Linked DNA regions of Homo sapiens: region 1 is linked to region 2. Evidence: fine-mapped expression QTL. Tissue or cell type: whole blood. Region 2 holds a variant in brackets; the other region holds the start of a gene. All regions are shown on one strand. Distances are between the middles of the regions.

The links. PIP is the estimated chance that this variant, and not a neighbour inherited with it, causes the effect.
Region 1: it holds the start of C14orf132, and the variant in region 2 is fine-mapped to the expression of C14orf132 in whole blood (TOPMed, PIP above 0.99).

The regions. Positions count from the first base shown.
Region 1 is chr14:96,036,251-96,044,355 of GRCh38, forward strand. C14orf132 (chromosome 14 open reading frame 132) reads left to right here and starts at 3,112. Exons shown (of 2, transcript NM_001252507.3): 1 at 3,112-3,277. The coding sequence starts at 3,251. RefSeq lists silencers at 2,962-3,151, 3,172-3,221.
Region 2 is chr14:96,123,480-96,131,584 of GRCh38, forward strand. No RefSeq gene overlaps it. Among named protein-coding and RNA genes, the nearest start is that of BDKRB2, 77 kb to the right of the region's middle. RefSeq lists an enhancer at 2,891-3,060. The variant C/T (reference allele first, on the strand shown) is at 3,075.

The sequences.
Region 1 (8,105 bases), 87 kb before region 2:
AAGTTAAGCATATAAGGAGATATGGCATGTTCTTGAAGAAAATATTTGTTATCTGTAAGATGTCAATTATCCCCAAAAAAGTTAATAGAATTTTCTTCAAGTCCAGGTTATTTGGGGGAGCTGACAAGGTCACCCTAAAATGTATTCAGAGAGCAAAGAGTGAAAGGTAGTAAGGAAACAAAGAACGCATTGAGGAAACTTGCTCTCCCATACATGAATTAGCATGAAATTAGAGTAACTAAATCAGAATAGCATTAGTATTAGACAGATGAACAACCAATGGAACAGAACAACCTAGAAACAGACTGATGGCTAAATGGACACCTGACAAATTTGGTGTTGCAGATCAATAGGAAAGAGCTGATCTAGTCAATATGGGGTTGGAATAATTGAACATTAATATGAGAAAAATAAAATTGCTTCCTTACTCCCGCCTCACACACAATATATCAGTTATACGAGGCTGAAATATGAGAAAAGTATTTAAATTTTTACTAAAATACTACAGGACAATATCTTTATCTTTATGGTCTCAAGTTGGCAAAGAATTTATTAAACAAGGGCTAACTATAAAAGAAAATATTAATAAATTTTGACCAAATTAAAATTATTTACTTCTGTTCATGAAAAGGTATAATAGAGTGACAAGAAATGTAAAATGAAAGATGATATTTAAAAACCTATAACTAGCAAGATTAATATCTAAAACATATACTTTTCCTGAGTCAATAAAAAAATAAGCAAAATTTTAAAACAAGCACAAAAGACCTGGTGAAAGGCATTTCTCATCAAAGGAAATGAAACTGATCAATAGATGTATAAAAGATGCTTAATGTCATTAGTAATCAGAGAAATGAGGATCAAATCCAAATGAAACACTACTTCATCATATCATATTTGCAAAACTTAAAAAAAAATCCTAACAATACAAAGTGTTGGTCAATTGTGGAGCAATAAAAACCCATGCCTACTATAGGTAGGATAATAAAATGGATGAAGCCTCCTTGGAAATCAGAAACTGGAAAGCAATGGGCATCAATTAGTAAAAGCACAGATGAGCTGACCACAATACCCAACTGTTCCATTCCTAGCGTATTCCCTGAGGACCCCTTGCACCTGTGCATCCAAAGACAAGATCGAGAGTATTCACAGCAGCATTTTTTTTTGGCGTTATCAGAAAACCTGGAGATGACCAAAGTATCCATCAAAGGGCTAGTGCATCAATAAAAACTGTGATAAGGACATACAAATGGAATATTGTGTAGCACTGAAAAACAATATACGTCAACTACACAAATAATGCTGAGAAAACAACAAAGAAGACATGGAAGAGCAAATTTAGAGCAATTTAATTTTTCTACAAAGGGTTAAAGCAGGTAATCTATAAAGGTAAAACTATAAAGAAAAGCAAGAGAATTGACAAGAGTGAATACTAAATAGGATGGAGGTGACCCTGGAAAGGGGGCAGGTAGGAGATGCCTTTGGAGAGATACACAGTAGGACTTCACGACTGTTTTTTATTGTTCCACTTTTTAACCTATGCAAGGCTATATTATTTTTCAAATTGCACACACACAACCTATACGCCCTTTTATTGTGAAGTATGCCGTGTACATAATATTTCTTACAGCAGACGGGGAGCCCTGGGCAGTTCTGGGCAGGCTGCTTTGCTATTGGCCACAGGAAGGGTGGGAGGAGGTGGGCGGCTCTTGGCATGGACTGTTTGGGCAGGCCCCGTGTGGACTAGGCTGGGAGGTGGCAGGAATGATGGGTGTGGTGAGTGCAGTACTGGCTAAAAACAGGGAGGGAAGGGAGGGCCAGGGAACTGGAGGGTTTAGAGACCAGAGGAGGAAGGGAGGAGGCAAGCATGACAGGAAAAGTGAAAAGAGAAAAGAAAGAAAAAAGTGGGGGGAAGGGGAGAGAAGGAGAGAAGGAAGAGGAGGAAGAAAAGGAGGGAGAAAGGAAGGGAAGGAAAAGAAAAGAAAGGAAAGTTACAGGAAAGATAACACTGAAAGCCTTCTGTAGGTCAGTGAGGTTCTGGTCCCATTCCCATAGCCACAGTCCCTACTGGGCCCCCAGCTGCCGGGGGACCTTGAACAAACCCCTCCATCTCCCTGTGCCACAGCTTCCTTGCCTGTGACAAAGTCTGGGAGTCCCAGGCTGCCCCTCACAGAGGCTCGTGATGACCATGAGTGTAAAGTACCTGGAAGAGACATCACCCAAAGGGACCAGTCGTACTCACTGAGACTCCTTAGAGTACAGCTGGTTCCCTCCCAGTGAGCCCCCGGAGGGCAAAGCCTCCACGTGTCACCAAGTCTGTGGTGTCCACCACACACACACACACACACACACACACATACAGAGCAATGGGCCCCTGTGGGCGTCTCTTCTGTTCCCCTTACTTGAACTGTGGCACCTGCATGATTTTCGATACTGGTTTGAGCTGAGAGCCATGGAGTACCCGCTGTGCAACCTGAGCACCGTGCGGTCCTCGAAGACACCACTCACAGCCTCGTCTCTATTGGATGATTAGCCATGTTAGGGCTCTCATTTATTGAGGACACCGCGTGCTATATTCCCTATCTCATTTAATTATTCGGTTCTGTATTCTCTTTTCACAGATGAGGAAATCTAGGCTCAAAGACACTATCTTGCTCAAGCTGCACAACAAAGCAGGGCTAGGATTAAACCTCGTTCTGCCCAGATGCCGAGCCGGGAGTACACCGGACTCTGGGAGGAGCGTTGGCGTGGAAAGCCAGGTCACTCCGATCTTGGTCCTCAGGCTCGGGATAACGTGTCAGCCCCAAGAGAGCGCTGCCCACAGCCCCGGGTGGGTTGGGTTCAACTGCACGGGGCGGGGCGCCAACAGCTCAGGACTTGGGTTGCAGGCTGGTTCTTGCACCAACCAGCGGGGCGGCCTCGGGCCTCAGTTTCCCCATCCCGCCCACGAAGGGAGGCGATTGCGAGCGCTTGGGGTTTCTGACGGACCCCGCCCCGGGGGTGGGGCGGGGAGTGGTCACGTGGAGGGGCGCCCCGTCCGCCGAGCCCCGCCCCACCCCGCCCCGCCCGCCCCCGCGCTCGGGGCCCTCCGCCTAGTAGAGATCTGGAGCCAGAAGCCCAGAGACAGCCGAGTGCGCCGTGCGGTCTCCGGACGCTCGCTGCTCAGCCCGATCCCCGCCAACTGTGCAGGCGGCTGACCCGCAGCGGCAGCGGCAGCAGCGAGGACTCGAGCGCTGGCTGCAGCGACACCATGGATCTCTCCTTTATGGCCGCGCAGGTAACGGGGCGTCCCCCCCACGCGCCCCGGGCCGCCAAGTTTGGGGAGGTTCGGGGCCACGGTCTCGCCCTCCACGCTGGGGCTGGGCAGTGGCGCCCGCCCGCGATCCGCGTCCCGGTCCTTTGTCCCGAGCCGGACACCCCCACTTGGTGCACGCGTCGGGGGCGGCGATCGCGGCTCTCCCGGGGTGGGGCGGGCTGCGCGCCCCGCACCCCCGCGGCTCGAGCTGTTCCCGCCCGGGCCCCTCTCGTTGGCAGGAAGGCTGCGAGGAGCCTGGGCAGCCCGAGTCGCCCCCTTCTGCCCATCCCCCACTGCTGTCCCCCTTCTGGGGTCCCGGAGCCCTCCAAGGCCGGGCCAGCTCAGACCCGCGCGAACGTGGATGGGCACACAGTCTCGCCCTTCCCCACTCTGTTTTCCCGAGGCGCCAGTAATCTGTCTCTTGCCGGTGACCTCGGGCGCCCCCTTTGCCGCCGCCTGAGGAAGGCTCTGAGACCCGCTTTGTGACCGTGACCCGCCAAGCGTCGACGCGCCGCGGTCGTTTGTCCTGTTTTGCTTTGTGTAGAGTCTGATGGAGCCACCAGTGCCCAGCGCGGCCAGAACCCCCCCACCCCCCTCCCCGACACAAACAGGCTCCCAGTGGCCGGAAAAACAAATCTCTCACAGCTTGAATTTTCCTCCGGCAGAATGCCCTGGAGTTCTGAGCTTGGGTGATGATTCTATTTCTGTGCCTTAACTCTCTTGAGCCAGAACAAAGACAAATCCCGGATTTCTCCATCAGTCTGTGACCCTAGAGAAGACCCAGAGCTGGCTCCAGGGAAGGGCTGCGTTTGGCCTGGGAGAGTAAGTCCCAATCTACCAAAGCCACATCTTGCACCTTCTCTGGTTGTGTTGGTTGGTTATGGTGGGAGCAGAGAGGTCGGGAGGCCACCCAGGCTCCCTTCTGTCTCCAGGGTGTGTGGCAGGGACCCCATCTGCTGCTGTTTTCTTTTACAGGGAACGAAGTTTGAGGGGACACTTGCTTTTTCCCCAAGCTTCACCTGTAGTGGAAGCCTGTTTAAAAAGTGACAGCAAAATCCAGACTGTGTGTGGACAGCGAGTCTGCAAATGGAGGCTTAAAAGATGCGGAAGCCCCAAGTTAGTTCTGGGGGTCTAGATCCTGGCTCTCCGGCAGCCCCTTAAGTTTTCCATGATGCTAATTGCCCTTCTGAGTATCGCTGGCCCTTTTTTTTTTGCCTGATTTTACATCTCCTGTGCCTAAATCCATACTTATAAAAATTGTCATGTAAACATCATTTTAGATAATGATGGTTTTAGCTACATGAAAACTAAGGAGGCTTTCCAGGATTTATTTCTAGACTGGAGAAGAACTGTGTCTGCCTTCCCCTCTGGATCCCACTGAACCTCCGGAATTTCCATGGTTAACAAGATAAACTGATCCCTGCTAACCCTGGAGCTGGCTGGAGCATCAGTTGCTGCCATGGCAACTTGACGAAATAAATACAGGGCTTTTTAACGTCTTCAGGCAGAATCTGCCCAGAGACCAGGTTCCTATTTTTCCTTTTTTGTTTACAATTCACATTCCACTCGGTCAATGTATTCTCCTTGACACATTTTTGACACTGGTTACATGCGCAGTACTGTGCTAGCTGCAAGGAACAGAAACATGAAGTACCACACATATGAGAACAGACGCTAAGGTTTGTTGAGCACCTACTATGTGCCAGACGCTGGGTGCTTGGCATATTTTATCACAGCAAATCCTTACAAGTCCATGACGGAGGCCCCATTTTACAGGTCAGGACACTAAACGAGATTAAATAATTTGCCCAAGAGCATGCCATTTGCAAGGAGGAGAACTGGATTTCACATCTGGGCCTGAGTATCTGCAAAGGGTTTTCCACCTTATTGCTTCATCCTGAGAAAGATACGATGTAAGGTACAGGACAGATCTATTTCAGAATGATTTCTCTCTTCTCTTCCCTCTGGGAAGTGGGCTTACTATTGTGCCTTTCTAGTAGATTGCTTTCTGCTGTTGATTCATCCCATTATCCCCATAAGGATGGGAACTGTTACTTCCCTACCTGCAATACTTCGCAGTGCTTGGCTGGAGCAAGTGCTCAGACCCTGCTCCTGGTGTGTCCTGTGGCCACCAGGTGTGTGTGACAGTCACTGTCTCTCTGTGCAGTCTTTCCCTCAGCAGGGGGCAGTTTGCAGCGAAATGTTGGTGCATCCATCCACTTGCTCAGCAAATGTCTAGTACCTGCCTTGTGACAAGCTCCGTATCAGGCACTGGGACAGGGATCCTGTGGGACAAACTTGAATAGGACGTAGATTTTCTTTCTGCATGTTTATAAAAGCTTCAAGAAATGATGGGCCCGGCTAAGACACAGAGGGGAATGGCTAAAGGGCTGGGCTGGGTTGAAGAAGGTGCCCAGCACGTAGTAGGTCCTCAAGTATTTATTAGAGGATTGGATGAGGACAAGATGTATGTTCATGAAAAGACATTAACAGGAGAAGATGGTGAATTCAAAGTGTCAAATGCCAATGCCACTGAACAGCTGTCATCATCAGGACTTTGAGAATGGGGGCTGAAGATGGATTAGAACTGTAGGCATATATCTCCTGGTGGGCCTGGGAGTTAAGACTGTTCTAGGTGGAGAGATATCGAGATAGCGAAGTCCAGAAAATATTCACAGAGTTCTTCAGAAAGCTAGAGGATGGGGTGCAGGAGGGCTGGGAGACAGAGGCCAGGGCCAGATTATAGAAGGTGCTGATTGCTGGGGTGAGAAGTTTGCATCTAATCAGTAAGGCAGTGGGAGCCATTGCAAGTTATTGAGCAGGAGAATGGCATATAGTTGAAGCAGTCCCTTGGGAAAACCTCAGCCCCTGTAGAGGATAGAAGCTGGAGGGATTCCTGGGGCTGGGCATGCATGCTTGTGTGATTAACTAAGTCAGTGAAACCAGATCCACGTGACTCCAAGCCCACGTTTCTTCTTCCCCATGTTGTTAAATGTGATTCCTGTTTTTGGCTTAAGAAGACCCAGAACACATAAGCCATTTTAGAAAGATTTTCCACTCAAAAGCTAAGCATTAAATAGATATCCTCTTTGGGTGTACAGAGTAGACACCAGTTATCTGGCAAATCCTCTTAGACAGAGGTGCCCTCCCTGGTGCAGTACACGTGGCTGTATGACAGTGTAAGAGAGGCTGCAGGCACTGAGAGTGTGCTCGTGGACCCCATCTTACTTCTGAGCCCTGGAGGCTCCCAGTTGCCCTCTCCCCTACCCTGGAAACACCCCAGCCCCACTCCACACAGTGCCTGAGTCTCTGGTGACTCTGGAGGATGTGAACAGTGAAAAAGGCCATTCATTTCTCTTAGGCCAGGAGTGGCCAAGAGGACAGGGCCACCTGGATGTCCAGTGGGCTGGGGACAAGGCGAGAATCACAGTCTTTTAGGACTGAGTCCAAAATCCCTGTTTCATTGGCAGGATCACGCATGTTCAAAGACAGCCGCCATGCATTCCCTGTCTCCCTCCTGGACATGCTTGCTGCCCACCACTTCAAGAGCTGGAATCTGATTCTTCTCCCCTTAAATCTGGGACTGTCCTTGGTGAAGAGAAAGTCTAGTGGCTTTCTTGGTGAAGAGAATGCAGTATTGGTGACATTCTGTGGCCAAGTCCTAAAAAGCCTTAGCTTCCACTTGGGCCCGTTGGGATGCTCACTTGCTCCAGGGGAAGCCCACATCATCCAAGAAGTGCAGTGACACAGAGGCACATGCTGGGGGAAGGGAGCGAACATTTCAGGAACGTTCTGCATGCTAAGCCAGCACTCATTATGGGGGAATGGGATGGACAACAGAGACAGGAGGGCTCCTTCACTTGTTCTTATGGCGTAACTCTCCTGTTAAAGCATGCCTCGGGTCTAAAAGCTCAACCTTCTTTTTGTCTTGCACTGTCCCGTCCCTGCAGTGAGTGGTTTCAAGCCAGTGGTTCTCAAATGTTGTTGCCATTAGAATCACCTGGGAGCTTTCAAGAGTCCTGCTGCCCAGGTCTCACCTCCGATACTCCCATCAGATTCTAGGGGTGGGAGCCAGGCACCAGCACTTTCCTTGCATTCCCCAGCTGATCCCAGTGGTCAATGAAGGGTGAGACTCAGAGTGTAAGCCCACCCTATAGGATACATCCACCCTCCCACTTCTCCCTCCCTGGATGAAACAGATCCCTGGCTCTCTGGTCACCCTTAGGCCATTAAAAACTCATGTGGTCACTGGAAGTCACCTAACACAGTATCGATTCAGCAACTTAAAATGTTTGGGCCCAGAGTGACATAGCCTTGGAACTTGCTCCAAAACTGAGCTTCTCCCTCTCTCCAGGCCACACCTGCCAGAGGTGGGAAACCTGTAGTTGAGGTGGGTGCCTTTATTATTCCCATCATCAAGAAAGGGAGATTTGGAATGAATAGCCAGGGAGGCTCAGCCGGCAAACAGAGGGCCAGGAGCGGAGCCACATCCACTGATGCAGGACCATCCTTCCATGTCACCGCAGTACCCCTGCAAGAGCTGGGGGGGCCAGGGACCCTCTGTGGATCAGCTTCATCCTCTGATCCATCCAGGCGGTTGTGTTTGTGTACATTTTTATTTTATTATCATTATTCTTTTTTATTTTGAGACACGGTCTTGTTCTGTTGCCCAGGATGGAGTGCAGTGGTGCGATCATGGTTCACTGCAGCCTTAATCTCCCAGGCTGAAGCAATCTGCCCACCTCAACTGCCTGAGTCTCTGGGGCTACAGGCACATGCCACCATGGCTGGCTAGTCTTTTAAAAATTAT
Region 2 (8,105 bases):
AAAACTGTTCAGCATAATTAGTCATCAAGGAAATGCAAATTGAAACCACAATGAGATACCACTTCACACCTAGAAGAGTGGCTAAAATTAAAAAGTTAATACCGAGGGCTGGCAAGGCTATTACTATTCTTGGTGCAAAAATTACTTTTAATGGCAAAAACAAAATTAAGTTTGCACCAACCTAATAGAACACTCATGCCCTAATGGCAAGAGTGTAAAATGGTACAGACGTTTGGAAAACAATTTAGCAGTTCTTACAAAGTTAAATATATACTTACCATATAACCCAGCCTTTATACTTCTAAGTATTTAGTCCCCCACAAAATGAAAACATGCATACACACACACCAAAAAAAAAAATGCTCACACAAAAATGTTTCTACCAGCTTTATTCATAAAACCCCGAAACTGAAAACAACCCCAAGTCCATCAACAGGTGAATAGATAAACAAATTGTAGTATAGCCCTCCACTGGAAGACTCAGTAATAAAAAGGAATGAATTACTGATACACACAACATAGATCAATCTCAAAAACACATTACCCTGAGTGAAAGAAGCCAATCAGGAAAGGGTATGTGGCTGCATTCCTAAGAAGTTCTAAAACAGACTCAATCCATCTGTAGTGATGGAAATCAGATCAATGGTAGCCTGGGATTGTTGATGGGAGTGGAATTGACTGGGAAAGTGTGCAAGGGAAATGTTTGGGGTGCCAGAAATGCTTTTATCTTGATTGAGATGGTGGTTATATGGTAAATTCATTTATCTAAGCTCATCAGTCTGTACACTATAATTTATACACATGTAAATCATACCTCATAACGTTAATTAAAAAACACATTTCACCTCTGAGTTTTTTGTTTCTTTAAGGACTGTATTAGTCCATTCTCATACTGCTATGAAGAAATACCTGAGACTGGGTAATTCATAAAGGAAAAGAGGTTTTGTTTTATTCTGTTTTGTTTTGTTTTTGAGATGGAGTTTCAGGCTGTTATCCAGGCTGCAGTTCAGTGGTGCAATCTCGGCTTGCTGCAGCCTCCGCCTCCCAGGTTCAAGAGATTCTTGTGCCTCAGTCTCCTGAGTAGCTATTACAGGGGTGTGTCACCACGCCTGGCTAATTTTTTGTATTTTTAGTAGAGATGGGGTTTCACCGTGTTGGCCAGGCTGGTCTTGAACTCCTGACCTCAGGTGATCTGCCTGCCTTGGCCTCCCAAAGTGCTGGGATTACAGGCATGAGCCACCATACCTGGCCAAGAAAAAGATTTAATGGACTTACAGTTCCACATGGCTGGGGAGGCATCACAATCATGGCCGAAGGGGAAGGAGAAACAAAGGCACGTCTTACATGGTGGCAGACAAGAGAGCATGTGCAGAGAAACTGCCCTTTATAAAACCATCAGATGTCGTGAGACTTTCTCATTAACACAAGAACAGCATGGGAAAAACATGCCCCTGTGATTTAATTACTTTCCACCTGGTCCCTCCCACAACACATGGGGATTATGAGAGATACAATTCTAGATGAGATTTTTTAGGTGGGGATACAGCCAAACCATAGGAAGGACCAAAACTAAAAGGAAATTTTACATAATGAATGTCTCAGATGTCATTTATTATGAATGGAGGTAACAAGGAGTAGAAACAGTTTAAAAAGACAGATGAGGCTGGAATATGACTTTGAAGGATTTTGTCAGTCCTACTAAGATATTTGAACCTTATGGTAGAGGCAGTAGGATAACAGGCAAATTTTATGGGTTCCTTTTAAACATTCTATCTACGGTGTCATTATATCTTCATAGGGAAATGCATTTATTTTTCAATATACGCTATGGACACTGATGCTTACATCTTCCACACAGGAAGTATGCAATTTATGGATATGCAGCTGGGTTAGCAATCCATCCAAACAAGTTCTGTTCATCGGTATGTATGGATTCAGGTGTTTCATGTGTGATACCTAATTTTGTTTACACAACAGCACTGAAAGACAAGCACATTATATTAGCATTTCCTGCATAATAAGCTACTCCAAAACTAGTGACTTTAAATAAACAACCACTTATATAGCTTACCATTTGGCAGGTAGACAGTTTGTATTGGGCTCAGCTAGGAGATACTTCTAGCCTTACCTGGGTTCACCTTTGCCTTTGTACCCAGTGCTGGGTTGACTGGAGGCTGGCTGATTTAGAATGGCCTTCCTTGGAATGGTTCCTTTCAGTTCCACGTGTCTCTCATCCTCCAGCAAGCCAGGCCAGATTTCTCGCATGGCAACTGGGCAGAGTTCCAAGACAGACATGTGCAATGCGTCTCCTAGAACCTAGACTCAGAACCAGCACCTATCATTCCATTGACCAAAGCAAATTAAAAAGGAATGGGAAATGGACATCACTTCTTGATAGGAGGAACTGCAAAGCCCACTGCCAGTGGTGAGCATTTGGGGAGGAGTGGAAGATTGTGACCATTTTTACAATTGACTACAATTATTATCTCCATTTTATGTAAAGAAAAACCAAGATTCAGAGAAGTTAAGTAACTTTTATAAGGTCACACAGCCAATGAATTACAATGAGCTGCTGGGCTTTGATTCCAGCTCATTTCTACAAGAAAATGTGGATCCTCATTTTAAGGAACTTATGGTATTTTATGCTGCTTAATCCATTCTTCCTTCCCTCTATAATGTTACAGAATCAACAGATCAGGGGATGAAGGAACAGAAAGTTTATGAGCAGTAGATATTTCTGAAATGATTTCAAATGTGACAGATTATTTCCTGAGATATAAACAGAAAAGAAATTCACTTCCTTTTGGTGGCATCGGCGGCTGAAAATGTCCCCAGCAGAGATTCCATTTGCCCCCACATTTCCTTATCCTTCATAAGAAGGGAAACATAAAAACGCCAAGCAGGCTCTTGACCCAGAGCTGGCTGAGGATACAGCGCACACATCCATGGTTGCATCTGCAGCGTTTGGGTGCAACCACAGGCAGCTTCAAAGGGAAAAGGAAGGGGAAAAAACCTTCTCTCCGTAGCTAGGCTACCAGTTCCTGTGTAGATTTCTCAAGATTCAGGCAAGAGGA[C/T]ATGTGGAGAACACATATTTAGAAACATCAGGTGGTTGCCAAAACAAGCCAATTTAGAACTGAGCGTGACAAATGCACATCTGAGGTTGAATGTCACCTGGGGAACCCACTGTTTCTGAGATCTCCACAATGGGGTGGGGTGAAGCACAGTGGAGAATGTGCTCACTGAGCACCCGGTCAGCCTGGGTGGGGTGGGCACAGCCCGGTTGCTACAGGACATGGGGCAAGGCATGGCATCCTTGGAAATACACACATATACATTGACATTGACAAAAGGAGGAAGTGACAAGGAAAGAAATGTGGAAACCATTAGAGCTGAAAATTTTGTCTCTAAATGTGCTTATGTGGAAGAGCTAGACAGAGTTGTTTACTGTTGCCTCTGCAAATTTGAATGGGTTGATTAGATCCTTCTTACCAAAGTAAATGGAGTGCCACGGTGATCTCCAAACTTGCCCAACTCTAGGCGGCACTCAGCTGGAACGTTTGTGCACAAAACACCTGCGCCTGTGTCAGGAGATTCTGATTCTGTAATAGGTCAGGATGGGGCCCAGGAGTCTGTGTTTCCCAAGAGCTCCAGGCAGCTGTGATTCTCAGGCAAGCATGGATATACCAGCGTGCAGCTGTGCAGAGCTTCCCAGCTAAACACACATAGAACATCTCTGGGGGAGGGGAGTGCTCTCTTCTTGGTGGAAGGCAACATACTCAAGGACTGGTCAGTATCTTAGCACAATTCTAGTAGGTGTGATGTTCCAAATATGTAGCTACAATAGGGTACAGTCTCCAGCCCCTGGGGTCCCTGTTCTGCCAGGCGTCTGCCCTTTGCACAGTTACTACACTTTGGGAGAGTCTGGGGCACTCTGGGGCAGCAGGATAAGGCTAGAGGCCTCCACAGACTTAGGGCCTTGGTGATATATCACCTAAAAGGAAGAACTCCAACATTCAGTACAGCTAGATGGGGGCATCCCTCTGAATGGCAGCACTGCCTGAAATACATTCACTGGGCACCATTTAGGAGGTTTTTGAGGTTATAGAAAAAGCCTGATATTTGGAGTCCCAAATCTGTGTGTTCTCACACAGGCACTAGCATGTACTATGTGATGCCGGCTCTGTGGAAGCTTCAGTTTCCCTGTCCCCAAAGGATGGAGATGATGCGTCTTCGTTCATAAGGTCACGGTGAGTGTCTAATAGACAGTGGAGCCCCAAGCACTTTCATCAGGTCTAAACCAGTGTACAAGTGTTGGTTTCTTTCTTCCCATCATGAAATTTAAAGACATCTCAGGTGCCTCCATGTATACATTGTTTGGGATTTTTGTTTTGTTTTTTTCCAATCTGTGAAATGACTTAAGAGTTCACAAACAGATCCATAATCCCTTATCTGAAAGTCCAAAAGCTTCAAATTCCAAAAGACTTCCCATATTTGGTGGGACAATCTGACCTCCCTGAGTTTGTTTCCCAGCTAAACCTAACATGAGGCTTTTCATGGTTTGTGTTTGTCACCTGCTTATGGTTTTCTCCAGAGATACTAGTGTGTTGGGCTTTGGGGTGCTTTCCAAACTCCCCTAGGGGTGTTACATAATGCAAGTTATATGCATACATTATAAGATATGAAAGTCCTGAATTCTGGAATAATCTGGTCCCAGTGGTATCAGAGAAGGGAATGTGGACCTGTCACTCCCCCACTAAAAGTTATGGAATTATTAGCTTTAAAGGGAGTCTTGAGGATCACTGTACGCATGTCAGGAATCTTCTACCGCATCTCTTATAGACATCTTCTAATTGCTGTTTGAAATCTTCCAGAACCAAGGACCTTACTGCCTAAGTCCCAGACACTCATTCCATTGTGGATCACTTCTTCAAAGGACTTCCAGCATCTGCACCACTGCAAAATAAAAACACGGAGAAAAATGCCATTAAAGGTACTAAAATATAAAGCTGTTCTCCTCTCTCTCTCTCTCTCTCTCTCCCTCTCTGTCATGGAATTTTTTTTTTACTTGCTATTTAACTTTGTAAGCAAAGAAAAATTAAAATGTTAAATGATTAGCATAAATTCTGTTCATCTTGACATTGTGCATTTCCAGTTTTAAATGCAAATAGAGACATTTAACTTACATGCGGAATCACTGATATTATGCAATTTGTATTTTGTAGCTTATATATACATATGTATTTGTTCTTACCAGTACAGCTAAGACAGAATACCAAATTAGCTGAACTATTTTAATTCAATTGTGTGTGTGTGTGTGTGTGTGTGTGTGTGTGTGTGTGTAGAGACAGGGTCTTGCTGTGTTGCCTAGGCTGGTCTCAAACTCCTGGCCTCAAGTGTTCCTCCCACCTCGGCCTCCCAAAGTGCTGGAATTAGAGACATGAGCCACCATGCCCAGCCCCTTCATGTCTTGCTATGGGCACATTCTACCCAAACTCTACCTTCATCTTCCTGAGGAGTAAAGCAGGACCGAAAGGAAAGGGACCATCTTTCCTTGTCTTTCTATGCCATCATCGTCACCCTATATGGTTGGTCAATACAGGGAAACAACATGAATGAGAATGGATATGACAAGATGCCTTGATTGTTCCTGTTTCTTAGAACACCACTGCCTACTTTGTGCTTTCAAAGCAAGTTCTGATATGAAAAGAAAATGTGACCCCTTGGGGGTGGCAGAGCCCCCTATTCAGTCGTAGCTGTAACACACTTACCTTGTGCTCACTTTGAGTCTTACCGATCACTGACGCATCGTGGGTTCATAGAGCATCTTGAACACTGTGTCAAGGAGCAGCAAGGGACAGAGACACACACGTTGCACTTCCCTCCTCGGGTCACAGTCATGCTCCAGTGTCCCATCAGACTTCACTTACAAACAGATTCAAAGATAAAAGTGTTAAGAATTTCAAGACAGCCACAGCACAGCCTTAATCCAAGCACTAGGCCTTACTGAGCAAGGGGTCCTGTGGGGCTGCCCAGGCCACTCACCCAGGAAGCTGGGCCTGTGGGGTCTATAGAAGTGGGTTGTTCCTGTCCTTTCTACATTTGGACTACCTAACTTTAGGGCCCCTGAGGGAGCCCGTATCTAAGTCACCTGAGGGTCCTGAGTGGGGGAAGTTCATGTGTGCAGTTGTCAGTGGCTGAAATGGCTTTCTGTGTTGGCCTTAACAGGTGAAAATGTAATGTCTGGAAATATGGCTGCCATTTTACGACCATGAGGAGATAAGCCTAAGGACTAAAGATAACATGTCAAAAAAGGCAGAGCAGACAGGAGTTGGATCCTCATTATTGAACCACAGGACTAAACAACCCTTTAGCTGCCTTGCCTCAAGAGTTCTTACTATCTGAGATGATAAATGCCTTTAAAGTTTAATCTACTTTTGGTTGGCTCTTCTATTAGCGCAGGCAATAGCATCAAATCCCATAACACAGACACAACCCCACATTTGCAGGAGCTGTGCCAGCCTTGATGTTGCATCCCCTATTCTGGGAGGTGTGTGTTCAGCAACCTGACTTAGACCGCCTTCCTGGTGGAGAGGAAGGTTGAGGTAAGTGCCTAACCCAGGTCTCTAACTTATCTACCTCTTTTGTTCCCAGGGTAGTAACCACCTCGCCCTTCCAGTTGCATTTCAGGCACTTCAACCAACCTAAGATGAGCACGATCTATGTGCCATTTGCCAAGACCGGGAAGGCAAAGAAAACATGGGCCCTGACCTCAAGTTGCTCACAGCCACGCTGGAAAGAAATGTTGACCAAGATTGTTATTAGTGTCTAAGATTCAGTTCTCTGGAAAGGAACTGTAATATGGGGAACCAGATTCAGAATGGTTACTGGGTATTGCTCTCGAAGGATTCACCAGTAGGAAGAGAGGAAGATAGAATTGGGAAGAGAGAAGGGACCCACACTGTGGTACAACTGAGACCTCAGACAATCCCATGTGAAACTCTGGAGCTGGGGAGGCCCTTCAGAGTTGCCCCAAATTACGGTAAATGGGCTGGATCTTCATATCCCTAATCAGCCAGTCATCAGCCATGGGCTGCCCCTGGGAGACAGTATAACAGCGGGTGAGACACAGGATGGTTCCCAGTGAAGGACTCAGGGCAGGGCTGGGGGCACCAGGGGGAGGTCGGGCCACAGTCCCTGTGCGCTTACAATGGACAAAGGAAGGCAGCTCTGACATGAATGATGATCGAGACTTTTATTTGCATTAATGAGTGAGATAAAAGTGATATTCCCAGCAGGGGGATGGGCGTATTGCCTGAAGAGGGAACCTTGATTAGGTTTCATAATATTCATATCAGTTAGGTTGACCATATAATTTATCCAAACTAGGACACTTTCAAGAGAGAAAGGGAGTATTATTAATTACATCAGTACAACGGTTTCTGTGCACAGTTCTCATTTTACAGATGAGGAAACTCAGGCACAGAAAGGTTGAGAAACAACATCATTTGCTAACAAGTAGTAGTGAAGAGGCAGGGCCAGGTTTCACACTCTGGCAGTCTCATTCCAGTGACTAATTCTCAAGACACTGTAGAGGTAGAGTTGGCAGACTTGGCGATGGATTGGCTGAGGGGTGTAAACTGGGAGGGCCAGAAGGGATCCTGGCATTCAGGCTTGAGCAACTGGGAAGATAGTGGGACTCTTGACCTGAGAGGGTGTCAAAGTAGGGGGAGGGGAGGGAGGAAAAGGGGATCTCAGACCTTCAGTGAGTGGCAGTGCAATCACTCTGCTGGCTCCTTTTATTTTTTGAGATAGGGTCTTGCTCTGTCACCCAGGCTGCAGTATAGTGGCACAATCATAGCTCACTGCAGCCTCAAACTCCTGGGCTCAAGGATCCTCCCGCCTCAGCCTCCAAAGTAGCTGGACTACAGGCACATGCCGCCAAGCCCAGCGCATACTCCATGCCCGGCTAAATTTTTTATTTTTTGTAGAGACTGGTCTCAGTATGTTGCTCAGGCTGCCCCACTGGCTTCAGTGTAATAAGTGGAAACTGAAAGATAGCTTTCTCAAATTACTCATGTTTATTGTAGAATTATCCAATATAAAAC